Regions from separate parts of the Homo sapiens genome. Here all the other regions are linked to region 1. The links come from fine-mapping of genetic effects on gene expression. A gene starts in region 1. Each other region holds a variant in brackets. All regions are shown on one strand. Distances are from middle to middle. Region 1 holds the start of MAPK14 (mitogen-activated protein kinase 14). Region 2 overlaps MAPK14 (mitogen-activated protein kinase 14). Region 3 has its middle 8.4 kb from the start of MAPK13. Region 4 overlaps MAPK14 (mitogen-activated protein kinase 14).

The links. PIP is the estimated chance that this variant, and not a neighbour inherited with it, causes the effect.
Region 2: its variant is fine-mapped to the expression of MAPK14 in whole blood (TOPMed, PIP 0.98).
Region 3: its variant is fine-mapped to the expression of MAPK14 in whole blood (INTERVAL, PIP 0.97).
Region 4: its variant is fine-mapped to the expression of MAPK14 in whole blood (INTERVAL, PIP above 0.99).

The regions. Positions count from the first base shown.
Region 1 is chr6:36,025,046-36,030,248 of GRCh38, forward strand. MAPK14 (mitogen-activated protein kinase 14) reads left to right here and starts at 2,763. Exons shown (of 12, transcript NM_139012.3): 1 at 2,763-3,228. The coding sequence starts at 3,113. RefSeq lists enhancers at 1-42, 2,374-2,813 and silencers at 3,004-3,103, 4,467-4,761.
Region 2 is chr6:36,086,600-36,091,802 of GRCh38, forward strand. All of the region lies in intron 8 of MAPK14 (mitogen-activated protein kinase 14), which reads left to right. Among named protein-coding and RNA genes, the nearest start is that of MAPK13, 41 kb to the right of the region's middle. The variant C/T (reference allele first, on the strand shown) is at 2,109.
Region 3 is chr6:36,119,582-36,124,581 of GRCh38, forward strand. It overlaps a transcript of MAPK14 not described here. Among named protein-coding and RNA genes, the nearest start is that of MAPK13, 8.4 kb to the right of the region's middle. RefSeq lists a silencer at 1,087-1,136 and enhancers at 4,223-4,272, 4,333-4,382. The variant T/C (reference allele first, on the strand shown) is at 2,657.
Region 4 is chr6:36,053,633-36,058,835 of GRCh38, forward strand. The region is part of intron 2 of MAPK14 (mitogen-activated protein kinase 14); the gene reads left to right. Among named protein-coding and RNA genes, the nearest start is that of MAPK14, 28 kb to the left of the region's middle. The variant C/T (reference allele first, on the strand shown) is at 2,998.

The DNA of each region.
Region 1 (5,203 bases):
CAGATCTGCTCTGGATGCAGACATGCCATCTGCACTCACTCCCTTTACCCTCCTCCCACCCTATCCCTGTCCCTAGCACTGTCTCTCACTCCACCTTGTATTCCTGCTTGGCCCAGTTACAGTTTTACACTTGTTTGTTTGATGACTGTGTTAATGTCTACCTTATAATGCACTTTATGTATTCCTTTTTGTAAATCATCTTACCCCTATGAGGGCAAGGACTTTTATCCCTTTCATTAACTGTTTTATTATCAGTGCCTACAGCAGTGTGGTGGACATAGGAAGTATTCAATTAATTTTTGTTGAATGATTGCCCTCCCATTGATTGTAAGCTCCACACCGGCAGCAACTGTAGTTTTTAATCACTTTTAAACTGCAAGTGTTTGACACCTAGTAGGCATTTAATACACATTGGTTGAATGAGTGTATGAATATACTGCTTACTTTATCTTTACCCTTTCATTCACCCTCACCTCATCATCCCAATTTGTAGGATAAAAATGTGCATTTCTGAGGATTCCTACTTCCAAGCTTCCTCCTCACCCTTTGTAACCATTCCCTCATTCCCTTGATCCCCCCAACCCCATCCCTCATGTCTTCACAATCATGTTTTTGCTCTTACTTCCCCTTCACCCTCCATTACTTCTTAGAAAGCTTCCTATCCTCCCTAGTTTGGAACATTCTCAAGCAACATGTTTTTGTAGATAAGAGAATTCCAGCCTAAGCTACATTGGATCCAAAACAGCTTTCCATGAATCACCCATGACTATCTGTTTTTTGGTTTTATATTGCTTTCCTTGAAGAGGACTGAGGATACTGTACCACTTGAAATCATGGTCACTGTTCATAATTTTTTCAACAAATATTTATGACACATGTTTTATGTTCTAGACATTGTGCTAGATGTTGGGACAAGATATGCAAAGTCTGAGCCCTCCAAGGTGTGTATGACACAAAATAGAATAATCACGGGAAATGTTGAGAAATGTCCTGGCTTGGATCTAGTTATTTCTAATACAAGAAACTAAGAGAATGAGACAGGATCTGATTCTTCTGCTCATTGTAACAAGCTTTAGCATAGGCATAGGTTGATAATGGATGTAGGCATGGGGTTAGAATGCCTTGCCCATTCACATTTATCTTGTTTGGTTTTTACAAATGACTCTGTTAGTCGGGAATGCAGGGCAGGAATTCTCTCGTAGAAGCTGGAACTGAGGTTCAGGAAAGGTCAGTTGACTTGCCTAAATTCGATGAGACTCCTGCCCTATTCTCCTTACTCGAAGAGGCCTGAGTTAAATGCTTAAAATCCTCTTCACTGATGGCTCTTCAGGATAGGAGTCAGTTTCAAATCTTCAGTGTAACGGTTTTTTAAATGCTTCTCAAAGGGAGATATCAGAGACTTTCCTGAATCAGAATCACCTAAGATGTATTATAAAAATGCATGCTCTTGATCAAGACCTCCTCTGACCTACCCAATTAGACTCCCTGTGAGTTCTGGGAACTTGCATCTTAAACTCCCAGGGTGATTTTTCTGCATGTAAGTTTAACTGGGAGAGTTTTAATGTAAAGCTTCGGTTTGTTTTTGTTTTTGTTTTTGTTTTTGAGACGGAGTCTCCCTCTGACGCCAGGCTGGAGTGCAGTGGCGCGATTTTAGCTCACTGCAACCTCCGCCTCCTGGATTCATGCAATTCTCCTGCCTCAGCCTCCCGAGAAGCTGGGACTACAGGGTCGTGCCACCACGCCCAGCTAATTTTTGTATTTTTTTTAGTAGAGACGAGGTTTCACCATGTTGGCCAGGATGGTCTCTATCGCTTGACCTCGTGATCCACCCGCCTCGGCCTCCCAAAGTGCTGGGATAACAGGTGTGAGCCACTGAGCCCAGCCCCTGGAAAGCCTCAGCTTTGATGCAGGGTTAACATTTGCCTTTGGGACATATTTCGTCAGCATCTCAAAGAGTAACCCATATGTCCTTGAGCAGATGGGAATGCAACAGCCTTCTGGCCGGAACCTGTCTCTTTCTTTCTTTCTTTCTTTTGAGACGGAGTTTCGCTCTTGTTGCCCAGGCTGGAGTGTAATGGCACGATCTCGGCTCACCGCAACTCCGCCTCCCGGGTTCAAGCGATTCTCCTGCCTCAGCCTCCCGAATAGCTAAGACTCCAGGTGCGCGCCACTACGCCCGGTTAATTTTGCATTTTTAGTAGAGACGGGGTTTCTCCATGTTGGTCAGGCTGGTCTCGAACTCCCGACCTCAGGTGATCCGCCCGCCTCGGCCTCCCAAAGTGCTGGGATTACAGGCGTGAGCCACCACGCCCGGCCACTTGTCTCTTTTTTATGCAAGTGTTTTTTGGAATTTGGGGGTTCAGGTGAGCAGGTGCTCTGCTGCTGGTAACTACTCGCAGTTAAAGATCTTTTGACTCTTTCCCCGACACGCTATTTGTCAGTGTCGTTTTCCACCACAGAGCCAGGTATTTGCCCCGCCGGCCACGGTGAGGCGCGCGAGGCGTGTGCTGCCAGCTTCTCTCTTCCTTCCCCGGTCCGCCTTCGCGCCCTTAAGGAGACAGTCCCTGGGAGTTTCTGCCTTTGGTCTCCAGTTATTGTTCTCTTCTCGCGAGAACTGCTCCTCCCATCCTCTTCTCTCACGAAGCCCCGCCCGCGGAGAGGTTCCATATTGGGTAAAATCTCGGCTCTCGGAGAGTCCCGGGAGCTGTTCTCGCGAGAGTACTGCGGGAGGCTCCCGTTTGCTGGCTCTTGGAACCGCGACCACTGGAGCCTTAGCGGGCGCAGCAGCTGGAACGGGAGTACTGCGACGCAGCCCGGAGTCGGCCTTGTAGGGGCGAAGGTGCAGGGAGATCGCGGCGGGCGCAGTCTTGAGCGCCGGAGCGCGTCCCTGCCCTTAGCGGGGCTTGCCCCAGTCGCAGGGGCACATCCAGCCGCTGCGGCTGACAGCAGCCGCGCGCGCGGGAGTCTGCGGGGTCGCGGCAGCCGCACCTGCGCGGGCGACCAGCGCAAGGTCCCCGCCCGGCTGGGCGGGCAGCAAGGGCCGGGGAGAGGGTGCGGGTGCAGGCGGGGGCCCCACAGGGCCACCTTCTTGCCCGGCGGCTGCCGCTGGAAAATGTCTCAGGAGAGGCCCACGTTCTACCGGCAGGAGCTGAACAAGACAATCTGGGAGGTGCCCGAGCGTTACCAGAACCTGTCTCCAGTGGGCTCTGGCGCCTATGGCTCTGTGTGGTGAGTGTCGCTGGGCCTGGGGCCGCTGTGGGCAGGGTGGCCCCTCGCGCCCGAGGGCCAGGCCTGCTCCACTGCTCAGCGTTGCGTCAAGTGGCAGGAATTTTCCTCGGGGGAGGGCATTGCTGCCCCTTCGAGCTCTGCCCGTTCTGCACCTCCAGCACCCCTCGCCCTGCACTCACGCAGGTATGCGGTCCACCGTGTGCAGCACTCAGGTCCGCTGCGAGAGGTAGGTGGTGGTGCTGGAGCTCGGTTCTGGCTAGCACCCTGCGCCTTCCCCTCTCGGAGGGTTGCTGCTCGGCAACAGGCACCGGGGGAAGGGCCGCTTCCTTGGGGGTCTCCCTGCCTACCTGGAGCAGAAGGACCCTCTCCCGTGATGCGCCCACGCTGGGGCTCCGGACCCTGGGTCCTCTGAGCAGACAAGCTCGGGGAACTGCCGGGAGAAGCAGAAGGGCACAGCCCAACCCGAAGACTGCGGTCATCTGAACAAAACTGACCAGGAAGGGAGCTCTCTCCGGGCCTTTTTTTTTTTTTTTTTTTTTCAAAACTCTGTCGAAATCCCATCTTGAAAAGCGTTCTTTTTGAATTCGCACTTGAATTAACAGCGATCCATAGAGCTTAAAATACCGACTTTATCTCGGTGAGCACTGTGCCAGCTTGAGTGGTGTGTTTCCGATTCGGTTGAAAGCGTATTTCCTTTCCGTGGAGGGGCGGCGGTGGTAGTGCCTGCAAGAACACTGCAGCTTGAGAAACTGGCAGGCTCACTGATTAGTCACATACCACTGCTCATTTAAGTATTGTTCGACAAAACAATTTTCTCATTTGGAGCAAGAAAGATTCAGATCTGTAAGGCGCCCTCAAGATCAAAAAGTTATTAACAGTGCTGGGAGGTATTGTAAATATTTTTTGAGATAATTCCTGCGAATACTGTGTTTTAAAAGTCCCTTAGAGAGCTTGCAGGGAGTTATCTAGTTATCTGCATTTATGGCCTGAGGTACACGATGGTTTTCGTAAGGATATGGAACCACATAGAAAAGGAAGGGAAGAGATACTTTTTAGCTTTAATTTACACCGTGAGTGTGTTTTAAATTAAGTCGATAGCATATAATTTCCAGACCTGAAATATTTCACTAACTGCTCTCTTAACTTCCAAGGTTTTATACCCTGTATTTTAGATTTTCTATAATTTGAAAGCTACGGATCTTAAACTAAGTATCAGATTTAACTGTTAGCTTTTTCTGTGTTTTAGTAATTCGTATTGTATGCGTCATTTGAAAACGGGCCTGTAAAATCGTTTTTTTGTTTTGGAACAAATTCCAGGCTTTTGGATGTGTTAATCTTTAAATATGATTTCTGTGTTTCCCAAAGTCACATCATGAATTTCCTGTTTGGTAGAATCTTCTGGGTAATTGAGATTGTGCAATTGTGTCCAGCAACAGATCATATTGCATTTTCTAGTTCAAGTTGCTTAAGTTATGTTGCAGATAGCACCGTGCTTGACATCTTTCTCCCATTTTTACAGCATGGCAGTTTACATTTTAAAGGAATTTGCAGCATTTTACATTCAGAGAGTGTGTGTGTGTAGTTGGTTTGCAGCATTTTACATTCAGTATATACATATTATATAGGTATATACATTCAGTATATACATATTATATAGGTATATACATTCAGTATATACATATTATATATATCTAGTTGATTTGCTAATTTTCAAAGACGTATTTGGATCATTGCTCTTTTAATATTTTATAGCTCATTAATATACTTCCATTTTTTCATTCTTGAATTGACATACATTTCTGTAGTATCACGTTTTCGTTTTCAATGCTATTTAAATTTTAATGGAGTGATACAGCAGAATAACTCAACTATAGAGGGTTTGGGTGAACTCCAATTGAATTGCTTGCAAGGGTTCGCTACTATTGGTGACTAGCTCTGCACTGGAACAGGAGATTCAGATTTACAGTGAAGTACC
Region 2 (5,203 bases), 62 kb after region 1:
AGGAAAACGTTGAATCTACCAATAACAAGTTCTCAAATTGAGGCAGTAATAAATAGCCTACCAAGCAAGAAAAGCCCAGGACCAGACAGATTACAGCCAAATTCTACCAGAGGTACAAAGAAGAGCTGGTACCATTTCTTCTGAAACTATTCCAAACATACAAAAGGAGGGACTCCCCTATAACTCATTTTATGAGGCCAGTATTATCCCAATACCAAAGCCTGCCAGAAATACAACAGAAAAAGAAAACTTAAGGCCAATATCCCTGATGAACATCGATGCAAAAATCCTCAGTAAAATACTGGCAAACCAAATCCAGCAGCATGTCAAAAGCTTATCCATCCACCACGGTCAAGTCAGCTTCATCCCTGGGATGCAAGGCTGTTTTAACATATGCAAATCAATAAACATAATTGATCACATAAACAGAACTAAAGGCAAAAACCACATGATTATCTCAATGGATGCAGAAAAGGCCTTTAATAAAATTCAACATCCCTTCATGTTAAAAACTCTCAGTAAACTAGGTGTTGATGGAACATACCTCAAAATAAGCCATGTAAGACAAACCCACAGCCAGTATCTTACTGAATAGGCAAAAGCTGGAAGTATTCCCCTTCAAAACTGGCACAAGGATGCCCTCTTTCCCTACTCCTATTCAACATAGTATTGGAAATTCTGGCCAGGGCAATCAGGCAAAAGAAAGAAAGAAAGGGTATTCAAATAGGAAGAGAGGAAGTAAAACTCTGTTTGCAGGTGACATGATCCTATATCTAGAAAACCTTGTTGTCTCAGCCCAAAAGCTTCTTAAGCTGATAAGCAACTTCAGCAAAGTCTCGGGATACAAAATCAAAGTGCAAAAATCACAACTATTCCTATACACCAACAGTAGGCAAGCAGAGAGCCAAATCATGAATGAACTCTTATTCACAACTGCTAAAAGAGAATAAAATACCCAGAACTATAGCTATTAATAACAAGGGAAGTGAAGGACCTCTTCAAGGAGAACTACAAACCACTGCTGAAGGAAATCAGAGAGGACACAAACAAATGGAAAAACATTCTGTGCTCATGGATAGGAAGAATCAATATCATGAAAATGGCCATATTGCCCAAAGTAATTTATAAATTTAATGCTATTCCCATTAAACTACTGTTGACATTCTTCACAGAATTAGAAAAAAACTTTAAAATTCATATGGAACCAAAAAAGAGTCCATATAGCCCAAACAATTCTAAGCAAAAAGAACAAACCTGGAGGCATCACACTACCTGACTTCAAACTATACTACGAGGCTACAGTAATCAAAACAGCATGGTACTAGTACAAAAACAGACCAATGGAACAGAATAGAGATCTCAGAAATAAAACTGCACATCTACAACCATCTGATCTTCAACAAACCTGACAAAACGAGCAATGGGGAAAGGATTCCCTATTTAATAAATGGTGCTGGGAGAACTGGCTAGCCATGTGCAGAAAATTGAAACTGGACCCCTTCCTTACACCTTATACAAAAATTAACTCAAGATGGATTAAAGACTTAAATGTAGAACCCAAAACGATAAAAACCCTAGAAGAAAATCTAGGCAATATCATTAAGGACATAGACATGGGCAAAAATTTCATGATGAAAACATCAAAAGCAATGGCAACAAAAGCAGAAACTGACAAATGGGCTTCTGCACAGCAAAAGAAACTATCGTCAGAGTGAACAGACAACCTACAGAATGGGAGACAGTTTTTGCAATCTATCCATCTGACAAAAGTCTAATATCCAGAATCTACAAGGAATTTAAACAAATTTACAAGGAAAAAACCCATTAAAAAGTTGGCAAAGGGCCAGGCACAGTGACTCATGCCTGTAATCCCAGCACTTTGGGAGGCTGAGGCAGGTGGATCACGAGGTCAGGAGATCGAGATCATCCTGACTAATTTGGCGAAACCCCATCTCTACTAAAAATGCAAAAAATTAGCCAGGCATGGTGGTGTGCGCCTGTAGTCCCAGCTACTCAGGAGGCTGGGGCAGGAGAATGACGTGAACCCAGGAGGCGGAGCTGGCAGTGAGCCGAGATCACACCACTGCACTCCAGCCTGGGCGACAGAG[C/T]GAGACTCCGTCTCAAAAAAAAAAAAAAAATATTGGCAAAGGACATGAACAAACACTTCTCAAAAGAAGACATTTATACAGCCAACAAACATGAAAAAAAGCTCAGTGTCACTGACCATTAGAGAAATGCAAATGAAAACCACAATGAGATACTGTCTCATGCTAGTCAGAATGGTGATTATTAAAAAGTCAAGAAACAACAGATGCTGGTGAGGCTATGGAGAAATATGAACACTTTTACACCGTTGGTAGGAATGTAAATTAGTTCAACCATTGTGGAAGACTGGTGAAATCCTCAAAGACCTAGAACCAGAAATAACATTTGACCCAGCAATCCCATTACTGGGTATATACCCAAAGGAATATAAATCATTCTGTTACAAAGATACATGCATGTGTATGTTGATTGCAGCAGTATTCAGAATAGCAAAGACATGGAATCAACCCAAATGCCCATCAGTGATGGACTGGATAAAAAAACATGGTACATATACACCATGGAATACTATACACCCATAAAAATGAATGAGATTGTGCCCTTTGCGGGGACACTGATGGAGCTTGAAGCCATTTTCCTCAGAAAGCCAAACACCACATGTTCTCACAAGTGGGAGCTGAACAATGAGAACACATGGACACATGGAGGAGAACAACACACGCTGGGGCCTGTTGGTGGGGTGGGGGTCAGGCGGAGGGAACGCATCAGGATAAATAGCTAAGGCATGCGGGGCTTAACACCTAGGTGATGGATTGATAGGTGGAGCAAACCACGATGGCACATATTTACCTATGTAACAAACCTGCACATCCTGCACTTGTATCTCAGAACTTTAATTTAATTTTAAAAAAATATAAGAAATACTCATTTTTGTCTTAAAGCCAATAATGTGTTATCAGATTAGAAATTATTCTTGTTTGTGACTTTGCAGAACCCTTCCATCTGGCCTAATGATAGCATTATTATTTTTTAAAGAATGAAGCCCTTTCTTAAAAGCCTAGTTGACTAGGGATATCAAGTGGACACAGCTGACAGAACTTTGTACTAGAAAGGAGGGAGGATACAGAATGTCTCTTCAGGTACAGTACTAACTTATTTCAAATACCATAGATCTTGAAATGAATAAGCCACTTTGAAAATTCTGTTACCAACGCTTAACACTCTGCAGCTTAAGGAAGAGAGAAAGTTTTATAGCCCTGTTATGCATCAAATACCGTTTTTCTACCAGAGATCACAGCCTTGGCTTGCTGTTGTTTTCCTTTTCTCCATAATCAAGTGAATTTCCTTATGTGTAAAACCTTCTTTAATTTTAACAGAAATGGTGCTCTTAAGACATAATGGGTTAATGGAGCTGAGTTAAAATCCACTTGCCATCAGTTACTGCCCTGGTCTATGGGAGTTTTCCTAGTGTATTAAATTTGCTTCTTATATATTTTTTTTTATTTCTTCTTTTGCAAACATGTTTTGAAATATTTCAGACATACTGCTAGACAAAGAATAATAAACACCTCTGTTCATACTGTCCTGCTTGTGAGTTAAAACACTGGCAATAGAGCTAAAGCTTCTGGAGACCCTTCTCTCACATCTGCCCATCACTTTCAGTCATTGGTTTCAAATACTCTTTCTTTTTTTTTTTGAGATGGAGTCTCACTCTGTTGCCTAGGCTGGAATGCAGTGGCGCAATCTCGGCTCACTGCAACCTCCACCTCCTGAGGCTGGTCTAGAACTCCAGACCTCAAGTGATCTGCCCGCCTTGGCCTACCAAAATGTTGGGATTACAGGTGTGGCCACTGCACCCTGCCAAATATTCTCCCTCTCTCTCTTTTTTTTTTTTTTTGGAGACAGAGTCTCGCTCTGTCGCCCAGGCTGGAGTGCAATGGCGCAATCTCTGCTCACTGCAACCTCCACCTCCCGTGTTCAAGCGATTCTCCCTGCCTCAGCCTCCCGAGTAGCTGGGATTACAGGTGCACGTCATCACGCCCGGCTAATTTTTGTATTTTTAGTAGAGACAGGATTTTGCCATGTTGGCCAGCCTGGATGTTCTCTCATTTTTAAAAAGCAGTTTCACTTTAGACACCAAAAGCAAGTGTCCAATAAATGCTGAAGAAGAAAAATATTTTATTAGGTTATTTGCCCTTTCCTCTCTAACTTGAAAATACATTTTCTCAGGAAAAGGTAGAATCCTCAGATTTGTCCATAAACCAAGGGTCCCTTAAGAAATTTTCTTTGTGTTACAGTGAAAATGACTATTTTGACAACTTGGAAGATAAGGAGCTAGGCTAAGTCTTATTCTAGTCTATCCTGTCTGTCACCAGGAAGATTTCCTACCTTCCCAAAGGTTAGTGCTCCACTTCACCCCTATGTGGATTTATGTCTTTGAAAATTACTGCTCATGGCAGGTAGGTCCTGCAATTGGTCCTTTTATTTATCTTCAACTTTCTGGCCTGTGGAGGTTTTTTAGGAGTGCCTGGAGCACTTAGAACTGACTAGAATATCCCTCTTTTACTTTCCCTAGAAATATCCTGTTATGCTTAGTTTTTTTGTTTTTTTTTTTCTTTACCTGTTCATTCTGACTGACTTGCTTCTGTTAAAGATGACTTCGTCTAAAGAGTAATCTTAGGCTTAAGTTGTTCTTTTCTTCATTTGTTTTAGAAAGATTCAGGAGATTTATGATTTAAATTTTGACGTTGTGATCATTACAATTAAAACACATTTTAAACTAATAGTAAAAATATTTTCTACCTAAGAGAAACAGGGCTAAACCTATTACAAAGGATGGCTCACTGTGGAAATAACTGATTGTCATGATGTGGTGAGTTTTGCTTTACTCCGCTAATGTGGCTACGTGACGCTCCTTCTGGTCTTAACTGCCTGGACAAATCATAGTGGCCTTATAGTAGCTGGTACTGTTGGAAGACTGGCCTGTATTTCAGTGGATTTGCCAGCTTTTGAAGAACCCATGGTGATTTCTTCTGAGGTTTGCATGTTTTAACTTCCTTCATGCAAATGCTTTTAGTTACTAAGATTTTTATTTTATGTTGTGTGTTTTTCCATGGAGTATGGTCATTCTGTGTTTTGAGGGCAAGGCAGTGGGGTA
Region 3 (5,000 bases), 94 kb after region 1:
GTGAAGACAAATGAACTAGAATGATTCCCCCACCACCACCCCAGACCCCTGATTTTGCCTCTGTCCCAGGAACAATAGGCAATGTCTGGAGACCTTTTTAGTTGTCACACTTGGAGGTGAGGGTGGTGAGCATCTAGTGGGTAGAGGCCAGGGATGCTGCTGAACATTTTGCGACGCACAGGACGGCCCCCACAACGAGGAATTACCCAGCAGAAACATGTCAGCAGTGCCGAGGCTGAGAAACAGAGACGACTCAACATCTTGGCAGATCTCACCAACAACCTTAAGTGAAAAAGGAGGCTGCAAAACGATCTATCTGGCATCGTTTACAGATGCATACGTATATAGTAAAACTAAAAGCAGACGAGAATAATAAACACCAACTTGTAGAGGGGTCACCTCTAGGGAGGGAGAGAGGGCATGGAATCAGAGAGGGGCATGAAAGGGCTTCAGCTGCCAAGAGCCAGACAGCTTAGGTTCTAATCCCGGTTCCACCACTGACACTGTGTAACCTCCGCAGGTTGCTTGATCAATCGGGGCCTCAGTTATCACAACTGTAAAATGGGATGATATTGATAATAGTGCCTTCTTCACAGGATTGTGGTGAGGGTTAAATACGTTAACCAATGTAGAGCACTTAGAACAGTGTGTGGCTCATAGTAAGAACTATATGTTTTTGTCACCGTTTTCATCATGATGATGAGTATCTATGATGTTCTATTTTTAAAATATCAGAAGTGAATATGGCATGTGTGTGAAACATCTCAGCGTTCTGCCTTGACAAGGACCTTCACTCCTCCTCCCACCCCCACCAGCCAAGTGAATTTCACCCTCAGCACTTAGTCTATATTTGTTAAGGCTGGCCATCCGGAACATACTCTCCAAATCTGAGACAATTCATCCAAGCAGTGTGTTTCCTTTTCCTCTTCCCCCACCACCACCGCCACCCCCCACCATGATGCTGGAAACTTTTCTTTATTGATACAGATGATGAGCAATGCGGTGATAAGTGTGTATCCCCCGGCTGTTTTCGCGTTTTCACTAAATTGATGGCTATGGGATTACCGGATTAACAAGGTGCACATTTTGACACTTTGGCAGCATTGCCAAATGGTTCTAAAAGCTTGCCCCAGTTGACACTCCCACCTGCCGACGACAGTGTTGTCACTGTTTCCTGTTGCCGCCCTCACTAGGGTAGGAGCTTCTCAAGCACAGGAACTGTGACATTTGTCCGTGTATTCTCAATGTCTTGAGAGGTGCCTGGCAAAATTTGGTTGAATGGATTAAGGCTTTACCTTAATCACCAGGTAGGTAAGGAGGATAGAGAAAAATAAGACACTCGTGCCCTCAAGAACTTACAATTTAGGTTTGTTTGAAAGTTAACTGAGAATTCCAAGTCTAAGGGTGCTGGTGAGAGTGGCCTGGCAAAGCCAGCCCAGGAAGAGCTGCTGAGCAGGTTGTAAGGAACGAGGATGCCCCACCCCCCCTCCTTGGCAAAGCAGAGGATGGTATTCCAGACAGGTCACAAACAGCTCAAGCAAAGACGTGGTGACAGGGATGAGGAAGGCACGCTTGCGGATCGCTAGAATGGAGGTTGCCTGGGCACAGACACCTTGGAGGATCCGATTAGCAAGAAAGGCAGGGCCTGTCCGGATGGGGGCAAGCCTTGCCCAACAGACTAAGAAGTTTAATCTTTATCCTAGAGGCCACTGAGAGCTACCGGGGGTGGGGCGTTATGGGGAGGCAGGGCTGCTCTGAAACAGGAAGATTAATCACAGCTGGGCTGCCTGCCGCTGGCTGCCTGTCACATGGGAGCTGTGCTGCCCTCAAGCTGCCCAGCTGGAGCACCCTCTTTCCAGGTGACCAAAGCTGGATCCGGGTGCCCCCTGGCTTAGGAAGGGCAGCCCTGGGCAAGTGTGAGGGAGTGAAGACCAGGCCTGAGAAGCAGGGAGAAGCTGTTTGTCAGGGAAGTGTAGTCACCAGGATCAGGGTGGCTTCCCCTCCACAGCCCCTTACTCATCCCTGTTGCCACACCTGTGCTCGGGCTGACAGTGACAGTGGTGTCCTGGAGCTCTCTGTGACTCTTATTTTTTTAGAGACAGGGTCTTGCAATGTTCTTTCTACTTAATTTTATTTCTTACAAAAGATTGGCCTTTCACAAGCATCATCCAGCGCAGCTAAGCATAGTGGTTACTAGCACTGACCCTGGGCAAGACTACCTGGTCTTCACTCCCAGCTCTAGTGCTTACTAGCTGTGTGTCCTTGGGCAAGTCACTTCACCTCTCTGTGTCTCATTGTTATACATAAAATGGGGGATACTGTTAACCCATCTCATAGAGTCCTCAGGAGGATTAAGTTACATGTATGTAAAGCTCTTATAACAACTTTTGGGAAGTAATTAGTGCTCTTTCCATGTTTATTAAATGCATATAATAGAAAATGAATGTATCCAGAGAGGCAGTCTGACTTACCTAAGGTCACACAGCAAATTAGAGACAGAGCTAGAATCAGAGCCCAAACCTCTGCCATGGCAGGTAGCCCTGCTAGTCTTGTTTGGGGTTATTTGCCCCTGACCAAGGTCCATAGGGCTTCTGGGGAGGATCTATGTGTCCTGACATTGGATAGTTTACTTAGAAGGGGTGGAGCAAGGAGACCC[T/C]GTGGCCTCTGCCCTGGACAGGCAGGTTGTGGAGGTGGCCTCCAGGGTGCACAGCTTCTCCTGCCTGAGGCAGGCTGCACACAGGAGTCCAGGCAGGACCTGACTCCATTACTGCGGTTTGTCAGGTCAGCACAGCAGAGACTGCCCCAGGCACGAAGGTGAGTTGGGCCTGCATATCAGCTGCACACAGACAGAGATGCAGCGATAACAAGGCTGCTGGGGATAAGGCCCTGCTACATCCCTGCCATTCGGCCAGTCACCGGCTGCCAGGCACTCTTCCAGGTACGTGGAATTCAGTGATGAACAAAATAGACAAAGCCCCTACCCTCGCCAACCTCAAGACATTCTATTAGAGGGGGGCAGACAATAAACAGGTACACAGGGCTTGAAGAACACGAGGCCAGGTAAGGCAGGTGAGCATGGCTTGTAATGAGGTCAGGGGGACCTCGGAGGAGGTGACACATGAGCAGTCCTGAAGGACCAGAGGGAGCACCATGCACAATGCCTGCAACCTGGCATGTGTTGCTTCAGTAAACCCTCCTGGTGTCCCTGGCTATGCAAGTGACATTCTCCCATCTTACTGATGAGGAAGCTCCACCTGTAGCTACAAATGGAGGCACGAGATTCAGACTCAGCCCTGTCTCCCAGAACTCAGCTACCTCTCTACTGGCTCACAGGAGTACAAGCACGCTTCAAGAATGTGGACGTCACAAAGCCTGTGGAGGGGGAAGCGGGTGGTGTGCAGTGGGGGTCTTGGGGAGAGGGATATGCACAGGGTTAGTGGGGTGAGTGGATCTAGAGTTCACTCGGGAACACCTCCTTGTAGATGTGAGTTTAGAGTTAGGCTTGGAAAGAAGGAAGGGAGGGAGAGAGGGAGGGAGGGAAGGAAAGAGGAAGGAAGGAAAGGTGGACAATTCCATAGGGAGAGGATCTGGCTCATGCAGAGCTTCAGTGGGAGTGGTGAGGAGGGCTGTCCACAGGGAGGAACCTGCTTTGGAGTGGATGGTGCAAATTCGTGGCAAGAGAAGAGGCCTCAGATTCAGGTTGTACACTCTGGTTCTTTCACCACCATACGAAGGTCCAGCCTCATGCTAGGACCTTGGGGGCCCCACAAGGATGAGGCCTCTAGGCCTTCCCTCAGGGAGCAAGGGAAGAACAGCAAAATCAGAAACATCCTAGGACAGATTGTATCAGACTGAACAGTGACCACACATCCCAGATCCCACCCTGTGGTAGGCTAGCCAAGCATATTCCCCTACTATTGCTTACTCGGTCCCACCATTTGGGTCTTCAAGCCACATCTTCCTCCTATGGGTAGTACCCAGAAGAGACACAAAACTCCTTGGTTGGTTCAGTCACTAAGTCTTTACTGAGCAGCTACAATGGGCCAGGCACAGTGCCAGGGGGCTCAGCAGTGGCCAGAATACTGCCCTCGCCCTTACAGAGTCATTGTCCAGAGGTGGAGAGGGACATGTCACAGGAGACAATGCAGATTAATATTATGCTGAATGCTACCAAGGACAAGGCCGAGATCAAACAGAGCGGAGGCCTGGGCACCAGACCTTACCCCAGCCACATCTTTGTAGGGTGGAGTGGAGGGTGACATGTGGGCTGGGTGCAGGGAGGCAGGCCTTAGGGGTGGAGTGGAACGGGGAGTGTGGACCGGATGGTGTGGGGAGGGAGGTGTGAAGAGGGGAAGCCTGTCATCCCGAACCCAGAAGGCTGGCTGAGAGGTGCCCGACTCACAGAGCTGTCCCCACCCCCGTCTTCCACCAGGGGGTGCTAAAGCTGAAGGAGGGGAGAGAGGAGGAGGTGGAGGAGGTGCAGGGGAGTGGGGGAGGGTGCCTTTTCTTTCTTGTCTCTCTTTCTCTCTCTCTCTCTCCTCCCTCCCTCCCTCCCTCCCTCCCTCCCTCCCTTCCTTCCTTCCTTCCTTCCTTCCTGCCTTCCTTTCGTTCTTTTTGAAATGCAGTTTCACTCTTGTTGCCCAGGCTGGGGTGCAGTGGCACGATCTCGGCTCACTGCAACCTCTGCGTCCTGGGTTCAAGTGATTCTCCTGCTTCAGCCTCCCAAGTAGCTGGGATTACAAGCAAGCACCACCATGCCCGGCTAATTTTTGTATTTTTAGTAGAGATAGGGTTTCACCTTGTTGGCCAGGCAGGTCTCGAACTCCTGACCTCAGGTGATCTGCCTGCCTCGGCCTCCCAAAGTGTTGGGATTACAAGCATGAGCCACCGCACCTGGCTGATGGTGCCTTATCTTTTGCTGCTGGGATGGATGTTCTGCTTGAGCCCTAAGTCTGCTGACCAGCCCTTGCCCCTGAGAAGGGGAAGAGGTAATGGGGAGA
Region 4 (5,203 bases), 29 kb after region 1:
ATGGCCATAGAGATTTCAAAGTCCTCTGGCTGTACTGCTTGTTACCTTGTGGAAGAAAATTCAAAATCTGTGAATTTATTATTTGACTATTTAGACTGTTTTAGTAATTTAACTTCTTCATAGCGAGAAAAAAGTCACAGATAAGTGACTCTTCATTAGCGTACATTTGTTTCATTAGTGCAAATTTCTTCTAAATTGAGAACATTAAGACTTAAATTTGTAATTGGATTATGGATGCCATTATAATCACAGCTGCTGCTTTTTATTTTCACATTTTATTTTGATTGTATGCTATTGAGGAAATCCTATTTCTACAGACAACTTCTATTCCTGAGTATAATTTTACTTAAGTAGCTATGTGCAAACCAGAGTTTTAAGAATGTTCAGTGTGAAGCTGCAGCCTTCCTAATCAGTGACATGTTTACAAGAAGTTGAGATATGCGGAAAAAGCTGGCAGCAGAAACTTTATTCCTAGGTCTGCATAAAATCAAAGTGGCCTGGCAGCTTTAAGGGATGTGTTTGCGTTTGATTTTTAACACATTTAAGTGTGTATGCTGTTTTTCATTACACATTATTATATGTGACAGAGACAGTGTCACAGCTTTGCAAGTATAAAGGATATTTTGAAAGTGAAATGCAAGCCAAACATTTATGGAACCCCAGAGCACCTTTGGGAGCCACTAGGATCCTATTGATGTGGCTATGCTAATTTAAGAACATCTGGTTTAGGAGATTATCAGTGCTACACTGATTGTTTTGCTTTTCTTCATAAATATGTTAAGCCAATGTTTAGGGATCATGGTATTAGAAAAATAGGATTTTAATTTCTATACATTGTTTTATAAGTGGCTTGCTTACTAGCAGTCTTTTTTTTATATAAAGATGTTTAAGTTCTAACAGTTGGTGGTCACCTAGATATCAGTGATTTGTTATTTAAACAAAATAAGGCACATGGCTGAATGTCTCATAGTTCTCTATTCCATTGGCAAATGTTTGAAGCCAAAAGACTTGACTCAATGTAGAAAAATTCCTGCATTTTAGCCTATTTTGAAAACATTTGTTAGGTGCTTATAATGTCAAAGTAGTTTTACCCAATAAAGAACCAAAACTTCCGGTAAGTTTAATTGAGGGTTTTCAGAGAAATTCATCTCGTTTACCCTCCTCTTCTTTTTTAAAAAATTACTGTTTTGGGTCACCATCCAATTTTTATAGCGGCCAAACCTCCCACAGGCAGCAGCAACAGGCGCTTAAAACTTGTGAACATTTTAGGTGTTGGTAACAAATACAATTTTCAGGTGCCAGAGGGCACATGTGATCTTTTACACAAAAATGCCTCTGACCCACAATCGGTAGTTCATCTTGAATTGTCTCTTCTGTTAGTGATCATGAATAATAGATAAACATTTATTAGGTGAGTGACTGAAGCTAGGGGATGTCCTCTGTGACTGTGAGAGTTTCTCTCTGAACAAAGTTAGTTGGACCATTCCTGATTGAACTTCTGACCTTGATCTCGTTAACACCTGCTCTAAGGAAAGATTAAAGGGAGGCAGCCTGCCAGCTGCATCCTTTGCTGTCTGGGCAGACACTACAGAGATGGCCCATATATGGGCCTAGAGATCTGTACATTTTAGAATTTAAAAATGATCAAGGAAATTGTTTTGTAAATTTTATTTGGGAGCCTTAGATTTAACCTTACCATTGTAGACCAAGAGATTGTTTTGGTGTGCTTTTGTTAAATATGCTAAATATTGTCTCTGGATACTGAGTTAAAGTATTTTTTTTTGGATGTGTGCTAATTTAATAAAAATACGACTTAATATTTGCCAGGCTTTGGACCATGATGGGATAATCATTAGAGATATTTGCTGCTTATTTGTATTATGAATGTCTTTTCTAAAAATTTGATTCCTGGGTTACTTTGAGGTGACTGAAGTCATGTAACAGCAGAAGGAGTTAAGGAAATAGACTAAAATATGACTTGATTTAGAAGGGAATTTCCATTTAAGAAATGAGAAATGGCTGGGCGCAGTGGCTCATGCCTGTAATCCTAGCACTTTGGGAGGCCAAGGTGGGTGGATTGCTTGAACCCAGAAGTTTGAGACCAGCCTGGGCAACATGGCAAAAACCAGTCTCTATTATTATATTAAAAAAAAAAAAAAGAAATGAGAAATGAATAGATTCCTAAAATATTTTCCAGATCTATTTTAATGCTGATAAGCTTTTGTTTTACAGTATTTTCCTTATGATTAATATTCATAAGTATGATTAATGGAGTGAGGGATATTTTGTAAAAACCCATCAAAAATTTAAGTACTTTGATTTAGCATGGGTAGTTTTAATCTCAAAATTGTTATTTTCGGTGTGCTTATGTTAAACACATTAAATATTGTAAATATTGCCCTTTTTAGGAAATTAAAATTTGGTAGGGTATTTACTAGTTGGCTTTTCTCTATTTTTTTTCAGGTTACTTTATTTTTCTTCTTGCAGTCATGGTTTTTAATCATTTGAATAGTTGAGCTTTATGTCTCATATTCTGTTAATGGAAGTAGCTGCTTCAGATAGTTTGCTTAGGTATATTGTATTTTGTAATTGTCTATTCAACTGTGTGGGCTGTGGTCACCACTTATTTTGATGATCCACAGTGGGTCAGCCTTTTGTACTAGGCACCTTCAGATACATTGTCTGCTCAGTCTTGCTGTCAGTACTGTGAAAATAAGCAATGATGTCCTCATGTTTTTCATATGAGGAAAATGGGACTCAGAGAAGATACCAAATGTATTTGCCAATTATTATTTACATAACAGCCATTCATTGAACTCCTGCTGAATGCCAGGCTCCATTCCAAGTGCCAGCGTTATTGGAATGAAGAAATTATAAGCTCTTGGACCCAAGAAATCACAAACTGATACTGGGGTTCAAACTTACAGCTGCTTGGTTCCAAAATGTCTGTTGTGTTTTCAGTTTGAAATTGGAGTTTTTATTTGAAAATAGTTTTGA[C/T]TTTTGTCTTTTGAGGTAACTCTTGCATGTGTAAATCAGATCTCTAATGATTTAGTTTTATTTCCATAGGAGGATTTTCACAATCACAATGGAAACACTGTAAAACAATGTAAATAGTTTTAAACTTTTCTATTGTTTTGAGGAGATGGGCATCTCAGATAACAAGAATCATTGATTAGAAAATATTGGAACGGTGAATAAAGTTAGCTTCTAGACCTCAGTTACCTTAAGTAGAAGTGGGTATAAGGGAGAGTGATTAAAAGACCAGAGGTCTTAAGCCAGGAGTATACCAAACTCAAGGGAAACGATTATGGTTTAGATGGAGAAGGTAAAAGGAAATGGATTTGACTTAAATTTAAAGCACTATTGTGAATGAGGTCACAGGTACTCTATTGGGAGGCATGTAAGTTGGCCTTACCTCTATGGAGGACCATTTGACAATATTAAGATCCTTAAATATATTGGTGTCCTTTGATTCTGTAATTCTGTTTCTTGAAATTTATTTCCTGGAAGAAAATATGAGATGTGCAAAATACATATATTTTTCTTGCAGTATTCCTTAAATGTCTAGAGATAGGAAATTGGTTAAGTTATGGTATACACAAATGATAGATATGCTGTATACAAATATTTAAATATTAAGTAAAAAGGCAGGATATAAAACTATGCATGGTGTAACCCCAATTTAATTTATGTACATCAGAAAATCAAAGGAAATATATCTCAAAATGTTAATGATAGTTATAATGGGTGGTATAATTATGGGTAATTTTGGTTTTCTTATGTACTGTTGTCTGGGTAAGATCTGAAAGTGATTCTATTTCCTTTGGAACAATTTTCAAGGACTTGAAACCTATTCTTGAATTCCAAGTATGTGTCCCACCACCTCCTTTTCAGGTTCAGACTGTAAAATTAAAGTTGCTTTTAAAAAGTGACATTTGGAGTCGGGCGTGGTGGTGCATGCCTGTTATCCCAGCTACTCGGGAGGCTGAGGCAGGAGAATCACTTATACCCAGGAGGCAGAGGTTGCAGTGAGCTGAGATTGTGCCATGCACTCCAGCCTGGGCAACAGGAGCGAAACTCTGTCTCAAAGAAAAAAAAAAAAGTCTGATATTTGGATGAGTGGAGTAACATCCTAATTAGAAGATCTTTTTCATGATAATGTTTTGAGTGTTAACATATCTTACTTCTAGAGCTTTGTGTTTAAGTTGGCAGTTTAGAACAGTGTGCTAGTGAGGCCACAGTCTTGCTTCATAACCAGATACTCTCAAATATGGCTGGGCGTATTACAAATGAATTATATATTTCTTATTTGCCTTGTCAATGCCTAACTTTGTAGAAATGAATGGCCTGGGTTTTAAGGAAAATAGATGGGAGGTAGGGGTTGGAGGGTGCTGTATGTGGATAAATCAGTATAAATTCCTGATCAGAAAAACTGCTCAAAGACCATGGGTTATTGAGTATTAAGTAGCTCTTTGCTTTATCCCTGTGTAAAAATAGACTTTTTTTTTCATTTTTAAATTGTCTGATTTAAATACCCTATACATTAAGACTTTGTGAGAATAATACCAAGAATATACTGAGAATATTTTGAGACTTTAAAAATGTCAGTTTTGAAGCATATACAGTTAATATGGAAATTTTTCGTGGAATACATTTTTAAAAAACACAATATTACGGTAACAACCATGGATGTGTGACCTTTTTCACCTGTTGGATTAATTCATTAGACCATTAGTACATACGTAAGGCAAGGACCCTAAATCTTTTTGCCTTCTGATAAACTACTGACTACATATGAATAAATTCTAAAGAGATGAAGATTTTTAATGGTAAAGTGGGTTAATATGAGAATTGATGTTAACAAGTAGAAAACAAAAGCATAATTTGGGTAGAAAATTAGTTGGAGTTATTAAGTATATGATGTGATGTTATGGAACTGAGGTAGCTGGTTTTGAATTAGTTCCTATTAAAATGATTGAGACGTGGCTGGCCGTGGTGGCTCACTGCTGTAATGCCAGCACTTTGGGATGCTGAAGTGGGAGGATCGCTTGAGGCCAGAAGGTCAAGACCAGCCTGGGCAATCTAGTGAGACACATCTGTACAAAAAAAGAAAAATTAGCTAGGCATGGTGGTGGCACGTGCTTATAGTCCCAGCTACTTGGGAGGCTGAGACAGGATTGCTTGAGCTGCAGTGAACTGTGAT